Linked DNA regions of Homo sapiens: regions 1 and 3 are each linked to region 2. Evidence: fine-mapped expression QTL. A gene starts in region 2. Each other region holds a variant in brackets. All regions are shown on one strand. Distances are from middle to middle. Region 1 overlaps FBXO34 (F-box protein 34). Region 2 holds the start of FBXO34 (F-box protein 34). Region 3 overlaps FBXO34 (F-box protein 34).

Region 1 (8,000 bases), 63 kb after region 2:
CTGTGGTGGGAGGATGGCTTGAGGCTGGGAGTTCGAGGCTGCAGTGAGCAGTGATCACGCCACTGCACTCGGCCTGGGCAACAGAGTGAGACCCTGGTTCAATCAATCAGTAATTTGTGTATGGCACACACATACCTTGCTCCCTTTTTTCTCCATAGCCTTTTATATACTGTGTACCTTATTAATCTGTCTCTCAGCTAGAACATAACCTTTTCTATGGATGGAGATTTTGTGCTTTGTTCACTTCTGTATCCCCAGTCTCTGAAAGAGTGCTTGGTACATAGCAGATGCTCAGTATATATTGAGTGAGTGAATAAAAGATCTGTTTGATAATTTAGCTCCCAAACTGTGGGATTTGAATAGGAGAAATGATTGCTTGAACATTCAAATTAGAGACAGGAAATTTTTTTTAGACTTGTGAAACAGAAGAAAATTCACCAAGGTTACAGATTGGGCTTCTATTATAATACCCTGATCTCTTTAGGCCCCACTAGGTAGTTTCAATTTGAGCACAATTCCAGTGTTGCATATTTGGAGGAGACTGGCTAGAAATTTCTCCCTTCTTTGTGGTTTTTATTGAATTTCTCTGGTAAAAATATATTAATGGCTTTTCCTATGCCACTCTCATCCTCTCCTGCACTGAATAATTTCTGTTCTGGAGTAGTAGTTTGTAAATTTGAGTAAGGTATGAATTATATCCAAAAGAAGAAATGTATTGAGGTTCTTCAGTATAGATGTAATTTTCTAATTTCTATGTTACAAATATATATGCAGCTATAAAGAGCAAATAAATACATAACACCTCAATATTATTTTGATATTAATTTGGTTAGAGTTTGGAAAACTAAATTGAGGCGTGATATATATATATACACACACACACATACCAACATGGTGTGTGTGTATATATATAAAAAAATATAAAATATATAAAAATATATATAAAATATATAAAAATATATATATACCAACATGGTGTGTGTATATATATATATGTGTATATATATATATATATGTATATATATATGTATATATATATGTATATATATATGTGTGTATATATATATATATGTATATATATATATATATACCACCATGGTGTATATATAAATATATATATATATACACCACCGGGGTGTATATATAAAAATATATATATACACCACCGGGGTGTATATATAAAAATATATATATACACCACCATGGTGTATATATAAAAATATATATATACACCACCGTGGTGTATATATAAAAATATATATATACACCACCGTGGTGTATATATAAAAATATATATATACACCACCGTGGTGTATATATAAAAATATATATATACCACCGTGGTGGTATATATAAAAATATATATATATATACCACCGTGGTGGTATGTATAAATATATATATATATTTAAATATATATATAAATTTAATATATAACTCATTCTCACTACTTTTCTCCACTTGAACTGCAACTGGAATCTTTGATCACACATCTTCTGGCTTTCATTTTCATTCATTAAATCAGGTTTGCTAGCACATTGGAGCATAGTAGGTGTTAAATCGTTAGTAAATGCACGAGCTCTAAAGTACATCCTTTTTGATTATCCTTGGGCATTTTTCTCACCTATACATTCCATACATAGTAGCAATAATTATGGCAAATGTTACTGTCCTTCAAAGTGTCGTTATGTAAAAATGAACTGATTTTTAAAAGGTCTGCCTAAGTGTGAACCGAGGTCTGGAGCTATCACCTCTTCATAAGATCCCAGGTAATGCAGATTAACTTCTGTTTTGCATCTGGGTAATGTTTAATTATTTGTTGATTATTGTAGAAGTGTTTTTGGATAAAAAGCTCTTTCTCAGATTGTCTTTTACTTTGCTTTCTAAAACTAGGAGGGAAGTATAATACATGATGGGACTGAGTGTTAGTATGGACATATTGTCAAATGTTTTCATAGGGAGAACTTGGTGTACCTCATTATTTAGATTTTTTTATAACTTAAAATGTGGTATGTTTTGAACTTTTAGTTTATCAGAAAATGTTGACTTTTGATGTAATGGCTACTTCTGTAGCTACGGTGATCTTCAGCAAGTTTCACTTTCTAAACTTTTATCTTTTCTGTGCAGTGGTTGCAGGTTGTGAGGTATGGAGATACTGAGGGGTACGAGGCACTGTTTGTGGTGACATGAGAGCCACTAGCGGACAGAGACTGGGGAGAAGGATTGATCAGCTGGCGCATTAGCCCCAAGATGCAGGTGAATTTGGGAACAGAAAGAGGGCCAAATGAGATGTTTGTGAAAATACTTTGTCGATTTAAAACATTCCTTCCAGCTCAGGTGCTGTTATGTTTAGGGAAGATGTGCGTGTTTTCTCTTTCTAGTGGGCTATTGTTAGCTACAAGGTGACCTTGCCTCCTGCTTTGAGGGAGAAGGAAAAAGCTGGACCCACAAGACACAAATCCCAGCAGTCTGTGGTTACTGCTGGAATGATTACTGTTCTTTATTTGTACTATTAGTTGTCTCTAAGATTGGTAACAGGAAAGTGAGAATAAGCTTACTCTCAGAAATTTTTGTTGAGGGAGTTTTGTATAATTTCTGACTATTACCACATTCCCCTTTACTTCGACCCTCTTGGTTTTGCTGTTTGCTGTGCTCTAGTTTTACCATCTAATAACCCAGCACTAAAATCTGATCTTGGGTATCAGATTCTCCTTTGTGGTTTGGTTTGTTAATAATTGAAGTACCTAATGGTTCTGGGTGTGAACTGTGCATACTTGACAATCTAGAACCAGGGAAGTGAGTTTCCTATTGAAGTAATTAATAAAACCTTGTGGCTCTTAAAAATATATAAAAACTGTTACACAGAAATAACCAAAATGTAAACTTAACAGGATATAGTTTAATTATGTTTTTATAACATAAACCTTAAAGATAGAAGTATTTTTAAGCTTGTTGGTGTCCTGTTCCTTTCTAGTTTGGGTGTGTAGGAGTCTTTTTTATCAGGAATTTTGTTAGTGCTAATGCTGGGGTGGCTTTTTTTTTTTAAATCTATGTAAACATGACCCTATTAGACAGCTGTGTTTAATGTAGTAAAGACTCATGGGGAGACTTTATAGTGTTTCTTGTTGGGACTTAGTGTCTGTATATTTTAGTATTTAAAGGATGTGGTTTGGTGCTTTGAAAATGAGAGGGAGGTCACCTAACTCATAGCTGAATGCCTGCGTGTCTAGATTGTTCCGTCCTGGAGGTTATTAACAACATGAAAGTTGTTTTTATTCTAGTTAAACTGATAGTATTAAGTTAAATAACTTTATTGTGGAAGTGTTTGTTTACACATGGCTGCTGAGTAGAATTTTCCTTAAAATCTGATTACATAGGAATGTTTTAGTAAATAGAGTGCTGGAAAAAAGCTGCTACACAAGCCAGAGCCTGTTGTGCTTTGCAGAACAGTAACCAAGATGAAGAGTGGCCTCTTTTTCTCCACCTTTTCCACCGCTCATCTCAGAGAAAGCAGGGCGCTAATCAGGTGGAGCTGCTTAATTGCATTAAGTTCATGGGCTGCTCAAGGGTTGATTAGTCAGACTCATAAACTTCCA[G/C]TTATGAGATGCTTGCTGACTGGCTGGTTTAAGTCCTTAGGGTTTGATGCACATTCACTCTAATGAGTACTTACATGTACAGGGCACTGTGCTGTGTGCCCTGTGATGGACACAGAAAAGAATAAGATTACTTCTATCTTGAAGACAGGGTAGAACCTGGGAAGTGTCCCAGGGTAGAAACTGGGAAGGCACAGTTCTGGGAATTCAACGGAGGCATGTAGTTAGTAGCCATTGGGTAATATTGATGGGGTGGGGGTGGGGCAGTAGATGTGATCTGGGCAACGAGGAGCCAGTTGGAGAAGTGGTTTCAGTAGTTGCAGTGGGTAAAGCATGATAAAGATGCTCACAAAGCAGAGAGGAAAAGTAAAATTGACAGGATCAGGCCACTGTGAACATGAAGGGCAAGTTAGAGGAACTCAGGCGGAAGCTCTTCATCAGGAGCCCTGGAGCTTTCCCCAAAATCCTACCAAAATCACTTATGTATGTGCTTTGGTATTTTTGGGTGGCAGAGAACTTAGACCTTTTCTCACATGTTCGGAAGGGTCCAGCATCCAAAAAAGATTGACCACTGCTGCGCTGAGTTTTCATCCATTGGTGACAAGATGGTCAGACTTCTAGAGAAATAAGGTAGTTTTGTGGTAGAACAAACTCTTCCTTGTGGGAGGTATAGTGGGATTTGGGGAATAGGGTTTATGAAATGGTCCCCAGAGTGGGATGGCTTGCCTTTTCAAACTGGGTTTCCCACCCAGCAAGTTAAGTTGACCCATTGCAGTGGATTGAGTGGAGGGCAGGTGAAGGGCAGGTGTTTTCAAGTCAAAGGAGTTCAGGTGAAGGGCAGGTGCTTTTAGTCAAAGGAGTTCCTTAGCATTATTTCCTCCTTTATTTGGAGATCAGATTGAAGATGTAGGGGACTAGAATGCAGTTGTAGTTTGTGGTGTTTACTTTTTATGGAAAAGTGCCTCTTATGTGAAAAGTCTTCTGTGCTTGATCCTGGGGGTAGGGGGGTTATAAAAATGTCATACCTGGGATCCTGCCCTTAAGGAGTTGATGGTAGGTAATGCTTTCCTTTGGCTTTTTGTTCATCTTGAGTCTGTGTATGTTCAGTTATCTTCAGCCATTTCCTGGGCAATGGGAAACATTTCTGTTAAAACAAACTTCTGACTTTGATCTGTGACTTATATTTCTTTTTAGATAATGAAGAACCACTGGGATTAGAGGGTGTATAAAATACAATAATAAGTATAGTGTATGTAGGAACCTCTGTACAACCAATTTGGTGACTTTTAGGCAACTCATTTGACTATTTGACTGTTTGTTACATGAGTGTGCATTTGGCTTTGTTTAAAATTCCTCTATAAAGCACATTTTAAAAAATGACCCAGTACTTAGTATATAAGATGAACTGCCATTTGTATAATTGATCATTTAAAAATGCTTATTATACTTTTAATCAATCAGTTTCCATGTTTATGAAATGGGAATAATTATTATATCTAGCTCATAGAATTGTCCTGAAGATGAAATTTATATCCATATATACATAATGAAGCTCTTTAGAGCAATGTATAACTACATGCCAACTGTTCAAAAAATATTAATGGCTACATCACTATTAATATTTTAAAATTAGTACTGTCATTTTCCCTTCCTACATGACTGAATGTAGGAGGTGACTATTTTTGTTATAAAAGGATTTCCAATGAGATACCTTTGAATGGTAAAATTTCCTATGCATTTATTTAAATGTTTATATATATATGTCTTTAAAGTATGAAAGTTAAGTGCACTTATACAAGGCAGATTCAGGTACTAATTAAACTGCTCATTTAGATTACAGAATGAGGGACTGAAAATTATATGTATTTAATTAGGAATTGGATTGATTGGTCTTGACTGCTGTTGTCTTTCAGTTCTTTTTTATTGTTATACTTCCCATGTGTTTGTCTCCTTTTCTTTTTATCTTTTAAAAATTGCTTTCTGATTTATTTCCTGTTCAGTTTTCAGTAATGGGTGTAGAATAGGGCAAGAACTTATGTTGGTGCCCGTTGTTTGAACCAGGAAGGAGCAACTGCATCAGACAGCCTGGGGCTCAGTTGGGAGGGACTTCAGATCAGTCCCTGCAGAGCTGCCTGGCCCAGGGAACCACTGAATTCCAGTTTCCTAACTCCAAATCGGACAGTTTGTGGGTCTACACTGTATGTACATAATGAACATTTTAAGGCTCATTCATCCAGTGTTTTCCACATGCTCCCATTTGTTTAGTTCTCCTTTTTAAAAACCAATAATTATGGAAAAATTTAGCTATGTACAGAAATAGTAGTGAGAAACCCCCCACTTAGCCATCATGCAGCTTCAGCAGTTGATCATCTCATAGCCAGTCTTGTTTGCTCAATACTCCCAACCATTTCTTTTCTCCCATTTTATTTTGCAGGAAATCCCAGACATTATATCATTTAATCTAAAAGTATTTCAGGATGTATCTGTAAGAGATGAGGACTCAAAAATGCATACACACATTTTGAGAACTTCCCAGAAATGTAAAAAAAAAAAATGCTATACACATATAGAATATATACATGCACGCACACACACACACACACACACACACATATATACTATTTTATGGTCTGTCTGACTCAGAATCCTATGTGGTGTGTTTGGTTGGTAGGTCTCTTCACTCTTTTTTTTATTTTATTTTTTTTTTTTTTTTGAGACAGTCTCACTCTGTCGCCCAGGCTAGAGTGCAATGACACTATCTTGGCTCACTGCAACCTCCACCTCCTGGACTCGAGATCCTCTTGCCTTAGCCTCCTGAGTAGCTGGGACCACAGATGTCCACCACTGTGCCTGGCTAATTTTTGTATTTTTAGTAGAGACAGGGTCTCACCATGTTGCCCAGGCTGGTCTCTAACTCCTGAACTCAAGGGATTCACTCACCTTAGCCTCCCAAAGTGCTGGGATTACAGGCATGAGCCACTGCACCTGGTCCATGCTTATGGTTATATTTTAATGCTATTTTCTTCTATTCTCTAGCATTTCTCATTCTATGGAACAATTTTTTGTAAATAAATCCGTTATAAATTGACACCACAACAGTATATCTGTGCATGTTCTCTTCCATGTGTTCTGTATAGTTGTACCAGCCTTACTCTTTGATAATGTCATCGTCCTCAGGCCTCCGCTCAAGACTATCATATTCAATTTTTGAAGTCTCTTTTTGCCAAAAATAAAACTTGAATGTTTCTAATGATGGCTGCTTTTATTGCTAAGTTGATTTCAATACATTAGAAAATTACAGATTTGGAAATGAAAAGACTAAGGAATTGATGCATCTCTCTCAAATGTGCCTTGAGGGCAGAAATTCCTCAGTTTTGTTCATGCTGAAGCCGCAGGCTAGCACAATATCCGACACTTAGAGGGAAGTTAAATATTTGATAAACAAATGAATTTAATTTTAAGTAAGGTGTCAAACTTGAGGCATCCAGAATTGAACCTGAAGCCACAGTTCTGCCTCCTTTCACAGTCACACATCTTATACTCCACTTACCACTTGAAGATAAGCTTGCTGAGGAGTACCCTGCCATGGGCCCTTCAGAATCTCCTTTCCTCATTGCATAGTGTAGTGGTAAGAGCGTAGGCTTTGACTCCTGACCGCACACATATTGAGCTCTATGATATGCTTCCTGTGCGAACTTAGCAAGTTTCTTAACTTGCCTCTGATTCAGTTTCTCCATCTACAATTGGAGATAAGAGTATGTACTTCTTTTTTTTTTTTTTTTTTTGAGATGGAGTCTCGCTCTGTCGCCCAGGCTGGAGTGCAGTGGCACGATCTCAGCTCACTGCAACCTCTGCCTCCCGGATTCAAGCAATTCTCCTGCCTCAGTCTCCTGGGTAGCTGGGACTACAGGCACGTGCCACCACACCCAGCTAATTTTTTGTATTTTTAGTAGAGACGGGGTTTCACTGTGTTAGCCAGGATGGTCTCGATCTCCTGACCCCATGATCTGCCCGCCTCGGCCTCCCAAAGTGTTAGGATTACAGGCATGAGCCACTGCGGCCAGCGAGTATGGACTTCTTTTATGGGTATTGTGACCTTGATCTTTGTAAGTTCCTTAAGCCATCTCTGATTCAGTTTCTTCATCTACAGTTGTAGATAAGAGTATGTACTTCTTGGGGTTTTATGGGTATTTTGAGCTTAAAACAGTACCTGGCACATAGTAAACATTGTAGAGGTATTAGAGCTGTTATTATTCTAGAATAAAAACAAGTTATTCTCCTCTTACTCATTTTTACCTTTTATCTCTAGCTCTACCTTGGTTTCTTTTCTTAGGCCTAAAAACAGGCCAGGCGTGGTGCCTCACGCCTGTAATCCCAGCACTTTGGGAGGCCAAGGTGGGTGCATCA
Region 2 (8,358 bases):
GGGTGTGCTTTTTTACTTCTGCTAAGAGTCTCCAAAGAGACTCTTGATTTTTAGCTCTTATCAGATTTTCACAGGGGCACAAGATCTAAAAAGAAGGATAAGAAGGATAAGAACTATGATTTCCTGGGTTTCAATACTTATTCAACTTTATGTCCCTCACCATCCACATCTTAATTATAAGATAGAATCATATCTGTTAGACAGTGTGCTGCCTTGGTGCTCTAGTTTTCCCTGAGTTGTTCTATTTATTGTGGATAATATTTATATTCTCATGGCTGAGTAGCTCCTGCCCATCCCCCCGTCATCACCAATGAGCTTCACACATGCATAAACCTGGGCATAAGCTCAGGGCTTGAAGCATGCTCCAACGGCCACATTCCAGGCATATTTTTTAAGTACATGCTTTACTTTTGCAAAGTTGAAACTTTTAAAAGCACTTCTGCTTCTCTTTTCTTATTTGGTCTTTATAATAACACAGTCAAGTAGGTAGGGAAAGGCATTATCACACCCAGCGGCCTAGGTTCTGCAGCAAAGTAGGTCTAGATGCAAAGTCTAATGGAGCCTGTCTCTTGGTTTCCTTTCTCCAGCAGCGGGGAAGTAAGTTTGATAAGGAGGGTTGGGGGGTGAGAGAGAGAAGATGAAATGGTGGGTGTCCTAGTCTGTTTTATGCTACTATAACAGAACACCTGAGACTGGGTCATGTATAAAGAACAGAGATCTATTTCTTACAGTTCTGGAGCCTGGGAAGCCCAAGGTCAAGGGGTTCATAACTCTTGAGGGGCTTCTTGCTACATCATCCCATGGTATAAGGTGGAAGAGCAAGAGAACACCTAACAGAGTGAGAGATAGAGAGGGCCAAGCTTGCTTTTATAGTAACTCCCTCTCTTGATAAGTAATCCACTCCCTTGATAATGGCATTAATCCATTCATGAGGACGGAGCCCTCATGACCTAATTGCTTCTTAAAGGTCCCGCTTCTTAACACTGTTGCATTGAGGATTAAGTTTCTAACACATAAACTTTGGGGGACACGTTCAAACCATAGCAGTGGGTGTTTTTATTTGGAGGTTGGAGTAAGCTTATTAAGGAATAAGCAGTAAGTTCTTAGTTTTTTTTTTTTTTTTTTCTGAGCAAAGAACAGAAATGAAACCAAGTCTATACAAGACAAATCCCTTGAACTGAGTTTTAATTAATATGTTTGCTGGCTTGAAACAACTAAGTTTTAATTACTAATGGAATAACCAAATATATATACTATATATATTTAGAACTTTTCTGCTGCTGTGCCACCTCAGTCTTGTTCTTCTTTCGGCTCTCACCAGTCCCATGGCCTCAATGTGCCACCCCATGCCCACCTGGGGAGCACCTTCCTGAAGACCTACCACAGGACCTGTGGGTTGATAAACTATACTGGCTCTACTGGCTTTGCTTCTAGGGGATCATTGCCATTATACAAATGGAGAAACAAAATCAAGGGAAGTTCTTGCCTAACATGGTTATGCTCTCTCCTAGTTCTTTTCTCCTAGACTGGGGCTATTTAAAGTGTGGTTCACTGGCCAATCTGAGACAAGAACTGAAATTGAGAATCAGATTTTAGAAACTTTACTAGCAATTTGACAGAATAATTTTATGTCTGTGGACTTTAATAATCAATAATTCATAGGCTAGGCATGGTGGCTCACTCCTGTAATTCCAGCTATTTGGGAGGCTGAGAAAGGAGGATTGCTTGAGGCCATGAGTTTGAGACCACCCTGGGCAACATAGTGAGACCCTGCCTCAAGAAAAAGATGAAAAAATATAATAATTAATAGTTCGGGCTTTTATTATGTCTTTTAAAATTAATTTCATTTTTATATCAATTTTTTGAGTCCTCTAATCAACAGGAATCAAGTTTTGTTTGTTTTTTTTTTTTTTTTAGATGGAGTCTCACTCTTGTCGCCCAGTTAGGAGTGCAGTGGTGTGGTCTCAGCTCACTGCAAACTCCACCTCCCAGGTTCAAGCGATTCTCCTGCTTCAGCCTCCCAAGTTGCTGGGACTACAGGCGTGCCCTGCCACACCGGGCTAATTTTTGTATTTTTAGTAGAGATAGGGTTTCACCATGTTGGCAAGGCTGGTCTTGATCTCCTGACCTCAAATGATCTGCATGCCTTGGCCTCCCAAAGTGCTTGGATTACAGGCGTGAGCCACCATGCCCAGAAGGAATCAAGAGGTTTTAAGAAGGACAGTGTTTGAGATGAATCTGAAAGGATAAACTGAAGTTTTACAATTTTGAGCTAACTATGACATAAAGAAGCTTCAAATGATCATGATATATTGAGCTAATATTGCTCACATATTAAATCAGACATACAGTTTGATGCCACGGTGTACCATATAACACCCTTCCTTAATTTTTTTTTTCCTTTTTGAGATGTGAGCCACCGTGCCTGGACTTCCCCTCTCCAATTTTTATTAAAAATATGTATATAGATAAAGGTCTAGATGGAGATACTGAGTGGTTATTTCTTGGTGATGAGATTATGGGAAATATTTTTATTTTGTTTTTACGTTTTAATATTTAAGATTTTACACATATATTTTACAACAGTAGTTTTATAATTGGACAAAATTATTTTTGTTAAGGACTGGCTAAAATCAAAGTTGCTGGTTTAAGTGTAACTTGGTACAACCTTTTAAAAATCATTTGGCAGTTTGTATTAGTAACTGTGAAAGTGTTGATAGTCTTTTTCACCTAGTAATTTCACTTTTGGGTATCTTTAAAAATCTACATTCATGAAGATGTTCTATGATTTCTTTATAATGGCAAAAAGTGAATGAAGGAAACAAGTTATGTCCAAAAATAGAGAATTACTGCAGTAAATTTTATGTCCACTTAATGTAATTTTATGCAGCTGTTAAACTGGTTATGAAGCTTATGTGGAAATATGAGGAATGCTTATAAAAGTGAAAAGAGGATGCAAAATCGCGTACAACTACTATTACAGTGTAGTAAAATATATGTGATGGGGCAAAAGGTCTAGAAGAAAATACATTGTCCTCATGTTTTTCAATGTGGTTAATATTATTTTCACAATGAAAACAATAATAAGCTTAAAGATTGGGAATCAAAAGTTCCTCACTGGCCCTCTGATTTGAATATAAAGTGTTAAAAATTTATATCCATCATTAACCAGCCCTTAAGCTTCTACAGACTTTAACAGTTTCGTGTCAGCCTCAACGTTTATCTACTTTCTGACCGGTATCCCTGCCATGATTTTCATAGGAAAGAGAGTCAGAAGGGACCTTTCCAATTTTGTCATTTTACAAATTGAAACTCTGAACCCCAGCCTTCCAAGCTAGCAGCAGAACCAGTATGAGGATCCAGGTCTACTAGGTTATCTAATAGTATCTGAGACCATTTACAGCTTCAGGTCCACCCACGAATATTCATAAACTTGACATGTCTGCTGATTGAACCCTGGCGTCACTACCCTTCTTGGCTGGCCTGGGAGGTTTGATTCCTTTCCCTACAGTCGTGCTCAAACTTTCATTCTCTACCACTTGGGGGCCGCAGACGCGTCATCCAGGTCTCCCTTTTCACTTCCCCCTTCCCGCCCCCAGTGTCCGGCAGGGGGCGCCGTGAAACTCTGGATCCGTGGCCCCTCCCCCGGCCAACCGTCGATTGGGCCGGCGCGTGACGTCACTCCGTTTTAGCCAAACAAATGGGTTTCGGGGCGAGCGTTGGGCGCCGCCGCGCCGCGCTGGGTGCTCGGTCCGACTCAGCGGTGGGGAGTGAGCCAGGCCTCCCGCCACCGCTGCTGCCGCCACCACTGCGTCGGGCTGGTGCAGCCCCGGGCCAGGCCGCGGCCGGGGCAGGAGCGCAGGTGGGTCCGGGCCGAGGTGGGGCGTGGCGCGAGGGCCGCGCGACTGGGGTCCGGCGGCGGCCACCGTGGCCGCTCCCCGCCCCCTACCGCCGCCTGCCTGCGCTCCCGGGGCGCGGGGCGGGTGGGGGTGGGGGCGGGGGCGCCGCCCGCGGGTCCGGGGTAGGGACCCGGCCGCCTGCGCCTCCTCCGGTGCGGCTCTTTCCGCGCGCACGGCCCGGGCGCTGAGCGTCCCCGCGGGCCACGGAGGGTCGGGCGGGTAGGGAGCGGGGTCCTGGGTCCCCGCTGAAGCCGAGGAGATTCACGGATAGGCCGTGAGCTTGCACCGGACCGGCGCTCCCACTTACGGGACCCAGGGCGGTGAGGAAGTCAGCCTCTGGACTGGGGTCGCCTCGCCCCTGTCGCGCCCTCCCGGGCTCGGCCACTCTGCCCTTCCCTGCCCCAGCGCAGGTGAGCTGGCGCTTGTCCTTAACCTTCTTCAACGACGAGGCGGGACGGAGGCTCGGACGCCTCCCCAGCCTCTGGGCTGGCGCAAGTCGACTGCGGTTCGTCCTCAGTCCACGATGAAGTCATAGGGCTGTGGGTCCGTGTGTCTGTGACGTCAGAAGATGGGTCCTGGGATGTCACTGCAGGCCCGGGCGGGGACCTGGGCTCACGGAAGGGCCGGGGGGACCCGCAGGGTAGAAAAAGGAAGTTGTCTTCCACGAACGCTTGGAATCGCAGTGGATTTGAATCGAAAGTTGTTCGGTATCAGCATTTTGCAATTTTAATGTAATAGTTGTCAATTTCTTTAACTTCTTGTCCAGCAAGCGTTGCGAGTACAGCTCAGTATAAGACATTTGATTTAGAAAAACTTAAGTCAGGGTAGGAGGTTTTTTGGAGGGTGTAATGTAAAAAGCCTTTTAGGAAGCTAAATTCGTAGTTTGATAGTTTGCAATCAGAATTACTGAAAAAAAAGAGAACCACTTCTAGTGTTGATAAATCAGTTTGCTTTTTTTTTTTTTTTTTAACTGGACATCTATCTGCTTGTTAGCATTTTTTGTTAGAAAATGGCCAGGAGGAGGGAGAGTGGATCTTACATGATTTTTTTTTTCTGTTGTAAAGGGAGGGAGGAGTTTGAATTAATCCAACATTTGTCTTAAATAATAATTACCTGAGGAGTTAATTTATCCAGGTTGTCCCTATCCCACCCTATGGTACCATGCTACCACCCCATGCTACCATGGTTTAGAAGTCAGCAACAAGCTGTTTTCTTGCTTTCTTACTGAGACCCGGCTATAACTTAATATAAAAACATATTCCAGGACCGCTTGTCTGGATAGGTAACTAAAATTTTGTCTGTAGTGCTTTTAAATATGAAATTAGAGAATAAAAAAATGATTTGTCTGTGAATACTGTTTTTCTTCCAAAGCTTTCAGAAGAGATCTAACTGGAAGAGAAGCTAGTCACTTTGTCATAGTGACCCTCTTCGGGTATTCCAGCATATCAGTACTTTTCATTTCCTCCTCTGTAGAATAATGTAAATGGAATCTAGTTCAAAAGGTAGATGGCTTAAACTTGAAGCATAGTTAGTCTTTAGCAGGAAGCTTGGGTAGAAGTCCTTAATCCTTCCTCACTGACCTTGACTTGTAATGGTACGGTTTTTTTTTTTTCCTCTCTCTCAATACTTCCTGCTCCCCATTTGCCTTTTAGAGGTGATTGATAAGATACTGTCTCTCTGGGTTTTACATCAACATGCAGATGGAAGTTATGCCCATTTTCAGGCAGGAAATAAAAGCAAAAATTTACCCGTTAGGTACTATTGGATTTGACTGGAAGTTCACAAAACAAGGCTTTCCTGTACATGTTATTTTGATCCTCACCACAACCTTGGGAATTTGACAGCATTGTGTGCGCTACTGAAAGTTGTTCTGGTTTTTTCTTCCTTCTTTTAAGAAATGAGGAATTTTATGCTGACAGTGTTGAGTGAAGTCTCTAAAGATACAATTTTGTATACAAATTATTTTTCGTATGTACAAATTTTGTATACAAAATTTTGTATGAAAGATACACATTTGAGCCTTTGGATCACCAGAGACTGAGAGGCACTTGAATTATTATGCAACTGCTGATATTGAGAGTGTTAGTCAACCTTTAAGATGAAAGAATCTTGGCAAGATACTATGTAATGCAATTGAAGGAGGTCCAAAATGGACGCTTGCATGTGTCTTTCCCGAGCGGTAGCGATTCTGGGGCCGGCTACACGGCTGTATGTAAGTTAGGTGTACTAGTTTTTTTGTATGTTTTTTTGAAACAGAGCCTCGCTCTGTCACCCAGGCTGGAGTGCAGTGGTGCGATCTCGGCTCACTGCAACCTCCGCCTCCCGGGTTCAAGCGATTCTCCTGGCTCAGCCCCTCGAATAGCTGGGACTACCGGTGCGTGCCACCATGCCCGGCTAATTTTTGTATTTTTAGCAAAGACGGGGTTTCACTGTGTTGGCCAGGCTGGTCATGAACTCCTGACCTCGTGATCCGCCCACCTCAGCCTCCCAAAGTGCTGGGACTACAGGTGTGAGCCACCGTTCTCGGCCAGGTGTGCTAGTATTAATGGGAAAGGATGAAAGTCAGACTAAATAAGAGTTGAAAGACCTGCAGCTGATAAGGAGATACCTGCTATTCGGCAGTGCATTTTTCCTCTCTATTTTGCTTAGCAGTTAGGAAGTTTTTATTTTTCCTCATGGAAAATGAGTTAATAGGTGAAGAATAAATGTCATAGTGCATACTGATGTGACTGAGGGACAACGACAGATATTTAAAAAGCCAGCTTGTGAGTGTTGTGTAATTATCTAACAAGCCAGAACTCGTGTGAAACATTTTTACAGTCTGTTTCTATTTTTGGCAGGATCTTTTTCACCCATGCTTTCCAGTTTTGGGTCTGGGAAGCAGCTTTTACTTCATATAAATGGTTTTATGGAAATTAATTTTGAGATTGGTTTATTATTTTAAGTCATTTTATTCACTTATATAATTTGAAGGCACTAAATTAAACAGTCATTCGTTATCCATCTTTCTGATGGATAAAAGCAAATGTCAAGATGAGAGTGCTGTATTGTAGAAATTCCTCAGGATATGTTTATTGGATCAGTTATTTTATTAACATTTAGAATTTAAATTCTTAAAAATTTTTACTTTATTTTTTAAACTTAATTTATGTTCAGCTAGCTTAATTTGACAGTTTTTATGTTCTAGTAACTTTAATCTTGTTTTAATATTTGTTTGGGAGAAAACATACTTATCTTTAGAGACATCATTTAGTGTTATCTTCCAAAATTTGCAGCTGTTTAGAACCAGATACTTGAGGGAAGCTACTATGGTATGATGAATGCCTTCCTTGTTAGGTCATGTGTGACAAAGGCAAAATTCAGCAAGTGCATAATCTGCAGTCCTTTGGAAGCAACAAAAACAAAAAAGAGCAGATTAACTCGAAATGCATTTAGGTCATCTGGAAATTGAATTCCTGTCAGTTCTTATCTTTGCATAATTTATCTTCTCCCCTTTAGTTAATGCTTATGGTATTTTGAAGCTGATGACATACTTTATTTTCCAGGAGAGCATTAATACAGTGTAGTTGTTTGTTAGTGTTGGTTAAAAGAACTTATCAACCTTTCATTCCCACCTCCATCTTCTAGTTAATGCTCCACAGAAGAGGCTCTCAGTAATCCATTTTAAAATATTCAGCTTCAGAAACCTAACATGTACATTTCCTATCCTCAGTAGAGTATAGGTGTAAATATGAAACTAAGTGCTATGTAAGTGTGGTTATTGCATTATTAGGTATGGATTTCATTCATCCAGCAAACATTTTTTTGAGTATTTCTGTGCCAGGTACTCAGATAGGGACTGTGACACAGAGATGATATATCCTTGCTGCAAGGACCCTTAACCTTTGTTTTAACATTGCCTTGCTATGATGGGTCTTGGGTGTGAGAGGCTAGAGTTGGGTCAAGAGGATAAACTATTGGCCGGGTGCAGTGGCTCATGCCTGTGATCCCAGCACGTTGGGAGGCTGAGGCGGGCAGAACACGAGGTCAGGAGATTGAGACCATCTTGGCTAACACAGTGGAACCCCATCTCTACTAAAAAAAAAAAAAAATACAAAAAATTAGCCAGGCGTGGTGGCGGGTACCTGTAGTCCCAGCTACTTGGGAGGCTGAGGCAGGAGAATGGTGTGAACCCGGAAGGCAGAGCTTGCAGTGAACCGAGATGGCGCCACTGCACTTAAGCCTGGGTGACAGAGCGAGACTCTGTCTCAAAAAAAAAAAAAAAAAACGAGGATAAACTATGTTATGCTAGATTGGCCAGAGGTGTTAGTTAAAGGTCAATTTAAGGAGGTATTAGAAACTCAGTTAAAAAGAATAGGGAATAGCTTATCATAGCCCAAGACAGACAAAGGGCCTAGATAACCACAGATTGAGATTGTGCTAGAATGAATGGAACTTGGTGAGTTCGGGCTTCCTTAGA
Region 3 (8,000 bases), 76 kb after region 2:
CCTCTCACCTTCTAGTCACCCCTCCATCATGAACTTTTGACTTCTTGTCCACTGTACTTCCTCACAGCAGGGTCACCAGGGGTCTTTATCACCAAGTGGGCACAATTCTTTATTTGACCTTGCTGCTGACTGTGCCTTCCTTTTACAGACTTTTTTTTTTTCCTGATTATGAAAGTAATACATGGTCATTGTGAAAAATTTTGGAAAAAGAGTTGTTATCTCTATCCAGAAAACTTTCTCCTCATTGAAATGTTTCTGTGACAACTGTCTTCTTCCTTTCCTCCTGTTTCTCTTGACCAGACCTGAGTCATTTCGCCTCCTGGATATCTCTGTCTTGTAGGCACTCAAGCCCAATGTTAATTTTTGTGTATGTGTATTTTTTTTTTTTTTTTTACTTTAAGTTCTGGGATACATGTGCAGAATTTGCAGGTTTGTTACACAGGTATACACGTGCCATGGTGGTTTGCTGCATCTATCAACCTGTCATCTAGGTTTTAAGCCCTGCATGCATTAGGTATTTGTCCTAATGCTCTCCCTCCCCTTGTCCTCCACCCCCACCACCCACCAACATCCCCAGTGTGTGATGTTCCCCTCCCTGTATCCATGTGTTCTCATTGTTCAACTCCCACAGTGAGAACATGCGGTGTTTGGTTTTCTGTTCCTGTGTTAGTTTGCTCTCCCCATGGGCTCTCACAGCACCCTGTGCTATCCTTCTGACACGTATAACATTTGTTGTAATTGTCTGTTTGCTTTTCTGTCTCAAGGGCAGCAACGATGTTTTACTCATATTTATACCAGTGTCTAGCCCAGAGCGGCTAGGACATTTCTGATAATAAACGGGTAGGGCTGGGTGTGGTGACTCACTCCTGTAATCCCAATACTTTGGGAGGCCAAGGTGGGAGGCTTACCTGAGTCCAGGAGTTCAGGATGATGATGGGGTCAAATGATGACCCCAACATTTATTAAAGTGAATTTACCTCTGCCTCCCCTGCTCCAAGTATGCTCAGCCACCTGTTGCCATCTCACTGGGAGGCATCACTCTTCATGTAGTTGCTGAAGCCATAGATGAGGACCCATCCTTGACTCCTCTCCCTCATCCTCCATTTTCAGTCAGTAGTTAGAAACCTTCTTGTTATTCCTGTGAACCCATTTACTTGTCATCTCTCTACTCTTAGCACCTTAACTTAGACTCTCTTTATTTCCCACCTACCTGAATTTCCTAAAAGCATCATCCACTTTTGAAGGCTTAGGACTTTGCGTATCTTCCCTCAGGGCTTAGCTTAGAAAATCAGGACTTCTCTGACCTGTTCCTATACCCTCAGGTGAGCTTGGTGCTGATGTCCCCTTCTCCCTCTTCATCCATACCTCTTCCTTCTTCTCCCCGTCTCCCCATGGGCTCTCACAGCACCCTGTGCTATCCTTCTGACACATATAACATTTGTTGTAATTGTTTGCTTTTCTGTCTCAAGGGCAGCAACTATGTTTTACTCATATTTATACCAGTGTCTAGCCCAGAGCGGTTAGGACATTTCTGATAATAAACAGGTAGGGCTGGGTGTGGTGGCTCACTCCTGTAATCCCAATACTTTGGGAGGCCAAGGTGGGAGGCTTACCTGAGCCCAGGAGTTCAGGACCAGCCTGGGCAACTTAGTGAGACCCTGTCTCTACAAAAAATTTTTAAAAAGATTAGCTGGCCATTGTGGCATGTGCTTGTGGTTGCAGCTACTTGGGAAGCTGAGGTAGGAGGATTGCTTGAGCCTGGGAGGTTGAGGCTGCAGTGAGCCAAGATCACGCCACTCACTGTAGCCTGGGTGACAGAGGAAGGCCCTGCCTCAGAAAGAACGAAATTAAATAAATAAAAAATGAGTAGAAGGAAATGAACATTTGTAGGTTGGAGGTTAGTATAAAAAATCTGATGCTACATGTTTTATGGTCTTGGTCTTGGCTGCCTTCAAATTGTATCTTAATATAATTGGCTTTCACTACCTAGTCTAGTAGTCATGGTTCTGTGAACAAGCTTTCAAAGTGTGAAGTATGGTAGAGCAAAGCAGGAGTAAAGCTGTCAGGTTGGCTGGAATGGGCCTCAGCACTTTGCTTGTATTGATAGAGGTTAGGTTTTCCAATAACTGATGACAGTGTAGCAGAGATGACTAGGGCAGTTGTGCTAGGGATAAAGAGTGGCACAGTTTAGTGACTTGGCGATGAGATGTGGGGATCAGAAAGGAGGAATCTAAGTGACTCAAGCTTCTGGCTTAATGGACTAGGTATACTTGAGGCTATCATTAACTAGTAGTGTTGATTTTGAGATTCTTTTTGATATCCAGGTGAGTATGTCTACCAGGCTGTGGGATATGAAGTTGGGGAGAGTGTGTCACTGGAAATGTTTGAGTTAAAACTACAAGAAATCACTTAGATATATAGCTTAAGAAGAGTAGTGGTCTAGAAACAGAAAGAACTCTGAAGAACACTGATGTTTAGGGGCTGGGGAAGAAGAGAGCTGGGAAGTCTATGTCAAAGAAACTGAGGAGCTGGTGGTTGAAGAGGGAATTTGGCAATAAAAAGGCCATTTGACCTTCAGCTCTAGAAGCCAGGAAATTAAGAGAAAAAAGGCCGTTGAGTTTATTGTGTTTTAAAAAGAAAATATCAAGAAAACGGGTGTGTTTTTACCCAGCCCTTAGATGAGATGCTTCAGTATGGACTGTCTGCTTGGCATTTTGTTGGGCAGTTCCACCTTACCCGTTAGTAGCCCAGCACCCCAGTCCACATCCAGAATCCTACTCTTACATTAGATCTAACACATGACCTCTAAAGTCCCTTCCAATTTCAACCTAACATTAAAAACAGATTCTGGGCCCAGTCTGAGAAATTGTGATTCAGCGGGCCTAGGGGATCTTAATTTCTTCTAAGGGCCTTTCTGAGAATCTGAAGAACATTGATGTGTAGGTGCTATAAACCTGCATTTTACTTTATTGCAAGAGAGCAGGACTTTATTATAGCAACAGTTTAAAATACAATTGTGATGAAGAGGTTGGCAACCATGGAAACCTAGCTGGAGCTTTACCCCACCCATGCCTGCCTTTGTGTGTGGGGGTGACTTGGGGGTGGGAAAGTGCCACCATCTGTTGTAATCTGTTGGAGATTTAAAGTTTTTGCTTTATGGATTTTTGCAGCAGATGCCCTTTGCTCCCTGCATTATATCCTCTCAGGCCATCACTGGTTTCAAACAAAACTTAGATTTTTGTAGTTTCTCTGTGTCTTGCCAACAGCTTTCTATTTTCTGCCTCAGGGCTCTCAAACCCAGCAAATGATGGGGAAAGGCTAACCTCAGGCAACCTTCAACCAGTGAGGGATTGGAGCTGGTGCCTAAATGTCCTGCTTCTTTCAGGGGTCTCACAGAATCACCCCACTTTGCAGCAGTCACCCTGTGTGTCCTTACTGGCTATTTTCCTTCCCTCACGTCTGTTCCCTGGGATCACCTCCTATTTTAATCTTGCTAAAATCTTGCACACAAAGTGTTAGTTGAGCTGACTTTAAAGCTGGAATGCAAATAAAAGCCTTCTGTAATTACATTAGTTTCTTTTTAATGTCCCTCTCTATCAATAATAGCACCTAAAATAATATATGGGGGAAGAAGTCAAAGAGAACATATTGTGCAATGCACAATGGCGCACATATTGCTAAAGTTTAAATTTATTCATAGATACTGTGTAATGAGATCATTATGTGAGAATTTATTGGGTTTTTCAACACTTCCATTTCTTTCATTTAGGAATGGGGTTGAACGGATATGAAAATGTAGAAAATAGTTGGCACAGAGAGCACTAGGTGTGCCTCTTTTATTCATTTATATGTCATCCGTTCTTGAATTCTGGGTAGCTCTATTTGTAAGACTATACAGTATAATGATAGAAAGCTATTAAAAATGTCACAGTGCAGAAAGGGGGAAGATCTCTACAGATGATTAGGCTATAAATTGCCAAAGATCAGAAAGACCCTGATAAGATCTGTTTCAAAGGTTTTGTTTGGTTGGTTGGTTGGGTTTG[T/C]TTGGTTGGGTTTTTTTGTTGTTGTTGTTTTTGGAGACAGGGTCTTGCTGTGTTGCCCAGGCTAGAGTATAGCAGTGTGATCATAGCTTACTGTAACCTTAAACTCTTGGGCTCAATAGATCCTTCTGCCTCAACCACCCCATTAGCTGAGACTACAGGCACGTGCCGTCACACCTGGCTAATTAAAAAAAAATTTTTTTTAGAGATGAGGTCTTGCCGCGTTGCCCAGGCTTTCCTAGTTGAAGCATACATCTTGGACAGCTCAGTGTATTCATCCTCGTTTGCTCCACATTTACTGAGTGCCTGCCATATGGCAGCCTCTATGGTAACTGTTTTCAGATACCAGTTTTAATCACTAGGAATAAACTTGGTCCCAAACTCCTGGCCTCAAAGGGTCCTCCCACCTATGCCTCCCAAAGCACTGGGATTATAGGTGTGAGCCACCATGCCTGGCTCCTATTTCAGGGGTAACTTTTAAAAAACACTTTGTATGCTTTAAATGCAAAATTTCTCTTTATCTGGCTAGAAGATATCAATATCCATAATTCTTTTATCTGAGACTAGAATGTAGGATTTAAAAGTTGAAGGTGAAAGGTAAACTTGTTCCAGACGATCACTTTCATTCTTGGTGATTAAAACTGATAACCTGAAATCAGTTACCACAGAGGCTGCCATATGGCAGGTACCCAGTAAATGTGGAGCAAAGGAGGATGAATATACTGAGCTGTCTGAGATGTATGTGTTCAGCTGCTGTCCCAGTGAGCAAGAGTAGGTGAAACTTCACGTGCTTAGACCTGTAGGTACTATTGCCTCACTCCCACCAAACTGGGACTGCAGATCTTTAGTTTCTAGGTTTATTTTGCAGGAGTCCAGCCATCCCTAGAAAACACTCTTTCCTCAATCCAGGGTGTTTTGTGTAGCAGTGGGCTGTTTTATGTAAATTGTACATTGACAAGTTCATTAGGTTATCTAGTATTTCAGCCCCTCAGTTAACATTTCAGCTGAGACCGAGAGAGGAAGTGACTTGCCCAAGGTAAAATCACCATGTCTAGATAATCACTGATATGGCAGGGACTGGAACACTAGTCTCTGCATGTAATCATCTTTTTGTCTCGTTTCTGAAATAGCTCCCATCTCTACCCCTGGCCAAGGACCAAAACAAGGCACCATCTTTCTGAACTAGTTTAAAATGGTTTTAGAATTAATAAGGACTGTAGGGTCTATATTTAAGATGGTTACAGGAAATTCGACAGTTAAATGTTTCTACACATAGATTATTTAGAAAATCAAGACTAATAGATGGGCAAAGTACACAGGAAGCAAATGAAAAATTGTAAACATCTAAATATTCAGTATTCAGTGGTATGGGAATAGTTTAGGAAGCAATAATTTTCTTTTTTTTTTTTTTTTTTGAGACAAAGTCTCGCTCTGTTGCCCAGGTTGGAGGGCAGTGGTGTGTGCGATCTTGGCTGCAGCCTCTGCCCCTAGGTTAAAGCAATTCTTGTGCCTCAGCCTCTCGAGTAGCTGGGATTACAGGCACGCCCCACTACGCCCGGCTGATTTTTGTACTTTTAGTAAAGACAGGGTTTTCCCATGTTGGCCGGGCTGGTCTTCAACTCCTGTCCCCACGTGATACGCCTGCCTTGTCCTCCCAAAGTGCTGGGATTACAGACGTCAGTCACCATGCCCGGCCAGGAAGCAATAATTTTGATGGGCTGTTTGCAACTAATAAAATGCGAATTGTGATGATTTAGAAAGGGTGTTTAAAAATCTAGTAGGGATCTTGGAGGAGTTCTTTTTATACTTTCCTTTCTTCTGTACTATGCCTAATACTTAGTTGTTTTCAGGAAGTTCAGATTTTTTTTTAATTTAAAAGGTTAAAGTTTACCAAATGTTAACTGAAGTCAGTTTCTGAAGTTCTTCAGTCAAAACCAATTTATTTTCTGTAAAAAAAAAAAAAAAGTACTACACACCATATAAACTGGTAGCTGTTTGTTATTCTTGATATGTGCAGTAAAAACTATCATGAGAGAGTTGGTAAAGATTTAATGAACTGGTAGAACATGTTTTTCTTAGTTGCTAAGAACCATCTGAGCTTAAATTTAAAAACATTTTTTTCTAAAAACAAAATTGGTTTCTGAATCAAATGTGTATTTCTTTCCTATAGGGGCTTTGTTATGCACCTAAAGCCATATTGGAAGCTCCAGAAGAAAGAGCACCCCCCGGAAGTCAGCAGGGAAACGCAGAGAACTCCTATGAACCACCAAAAGGCTGTAAATGATGAAACATGCAAAGCTAGCCACATAACATCAAGTGTCTTTCCTTCAGCCTCTCTCGGTAAAGCATCATCTCGAAAGCCATTTGGGATCCTTTCTCCAAATGTTCTGTGCAGTATGAGTGGGAAGAGTCCTGTAGAGAGCAGCTTGAATGTTAAAACCAAAAAGAATGCACCATCTGCAACGATCCACCAGGGCGAAGAAGAAGGACCACTTGATATCTGGGCTGTTGTGAAACCTGGAAATACCAAGGAAAAAATTGCATTCTTTGCATCCCACCAGTGTAGTAACAGGATAGGATCTATGAAAATAAAAAGTTCCTGGGATATTGATGGGAGAGCTACTAAGAGAAGGAAAAAATCAGGGGATCTTAAAAAAGCCAAGGTACAGGTGGAAAGGATGAGGGAGGTTAACAGCAGGTGCTACCAACCTGAGCCTTTTGCATGTGGCATTGAGCACTGTTCTGTGCACTATGTGAGTGACAGTGGGGATGGAGTCTATGCTGGGAGGCCTCTGTCAGTTATACAGATGGTTGCCTTCTTGGAGCAAAGAGCCAGTGCTCTGCTAGCTAGCTGTTCAAAAAACTGCACAAACTCACCTGCAATTGTGAGGTTTTCTGGCCAATCCAGAGGTGTGCCTGCAGTGTCTGAGTCCTATTCTGCCCCAGGAGCTTGTGAAGAACCCACAGAAAGGGGAAATCTTGAGGTTGGTGAACCACAGAGCGAACCAGTCCGTGTCCTTGACATGGTAGCCAAGTTGGAGTCTGAGTGCCTGAAGCGGCAGGGCCAGCGTGAGCCTGGGAGCCTCTCAAGGAATAACAGCTTCCGTCGAAATGTGGGCAGAGTATTGCTTGCAAATAGCACTCAGGCTGATGAAGGCAAAACAAAGAAAGGCGTCTTGGAGGCACCTGACACTCAGGTGAATCCTGTGGGGTCTGTATCTGTGGATTGTGGCCCTTCAAGAGCTGATCGTTGTTCTCCTAAGGAGGACCAGGCCTGGGACGGTGCTTCTCAGGACTGCCCCCCATTGCCAGCAGGAGTGAGTTTCCACATAGACAGTGCAGAGTTAGAGCCGGGTTCGCAAACTGCCGTGAAAAACAGCAACAGATATGATGTGGAAATGACAGATGAACTCGTTGGGTTACCTTTTTCCTCTCATACCTATTCCCAAGCCTCTGAATTGCCCACAGATGCTGTTGATTGTATGAGCAGAGAGCTTGTGTCCCTTACTAGCCGAAATCCTGATCAAAGAAAAGAATCTTTGTGCATTAGTATCACTGTGTCCAAGGTAGACAAAGACCAGCCTTCCATTTTAAACTCCTGTGAAGACCCAGTTCCAGGGATGTTGTTTTTTTTGCCACCTGGTCAGCACTTGTCAGACTATTCCCAGTTGAATGAAAGCACAACAAAAGAGTCTTCAGAGGCCAGCCAGCTTGAAGATGCTGCTGGGGGTGACAGTGCATCTGAGGAAAAAAGTGGGTCTGCTGAGCCATTTGTACTGCCAGCCTCTTCTGTGGAAAGTACATTACCAGTGCTTGAGGCATCCAGTTGGAAGAAGCAGGTGTCGCATGACTTCCTGGAGACCAGGTTTAAAATCCAGCAGCTTTTGGAGCCTCAGCAGTACATGGCTTTTCTGCCCCACCACATTATGGTAAAAATCTTCAGGTTACTTCCCACCAAGA

What was found. PIP is the estimated chance that this variant, and not a neighbour inherited with it, causes the effect. A credible set is the group of variants that fine-mapping cannot tell apart.
Region 1: its variant is the best candidate, but not a certain one, in a credible set for the expression of FBXO34 in cerebellum (GTEx, PIP 0.53).
Region 3: its variant is the best candidate, but not a certain one, in a credible set for the expression of FBXO34 in whole blood (TOPMed, PIP 0.58).

What each region holds. Positions count from the first base shown.
Region 1 is chr14:55,330,690-55,338,689 of GRCh38, forward strand. All of the region lies in intron 1 of FBXO34 (F-box protein 34), which reads left to right. Among named protein-coding and RNA genes, the nearest start is that of FBXO34-AS1, 63 kb to the left of the region's middle. The variant G/C (reference allele first, on the strand shown) is at 3,597.
Region 2 is chr14:55,267,676-55,276,033 of GRCh38, forward strand. FBXO34 (F-box protein 34) reads left to right here and starts at 3,746. Exons shown (of 2, transcript NM_017943.4): 1 at 3,746-3,862. FBXO34-AS1 (FBXO34 antisense RNA 1) reads right to left here and starts at 4,403. Exons shown (of 2, transcript NR_184222.1): 1 at 4,207-4,403. RefSeq lists a silencer at 3,798-4,297.
Region 3 is chr14:55,344,171-55,352,170 of GRCh38, forward strand. FBXO34 (F-box protein 34) reads left to right here. Exons shown (of 2, transcript NM_017943.4): 2 at 6,211-8,000. The coding sequence starts at 6,221. Among named protein-coding and RNA genes, the nearest start is that of ATG14, 64 kb to the right of the region's middle. RefSeq lists a silencer at 5,442-5,491. The variant T/C (reference allele first, on the strand shown) is at 4,044.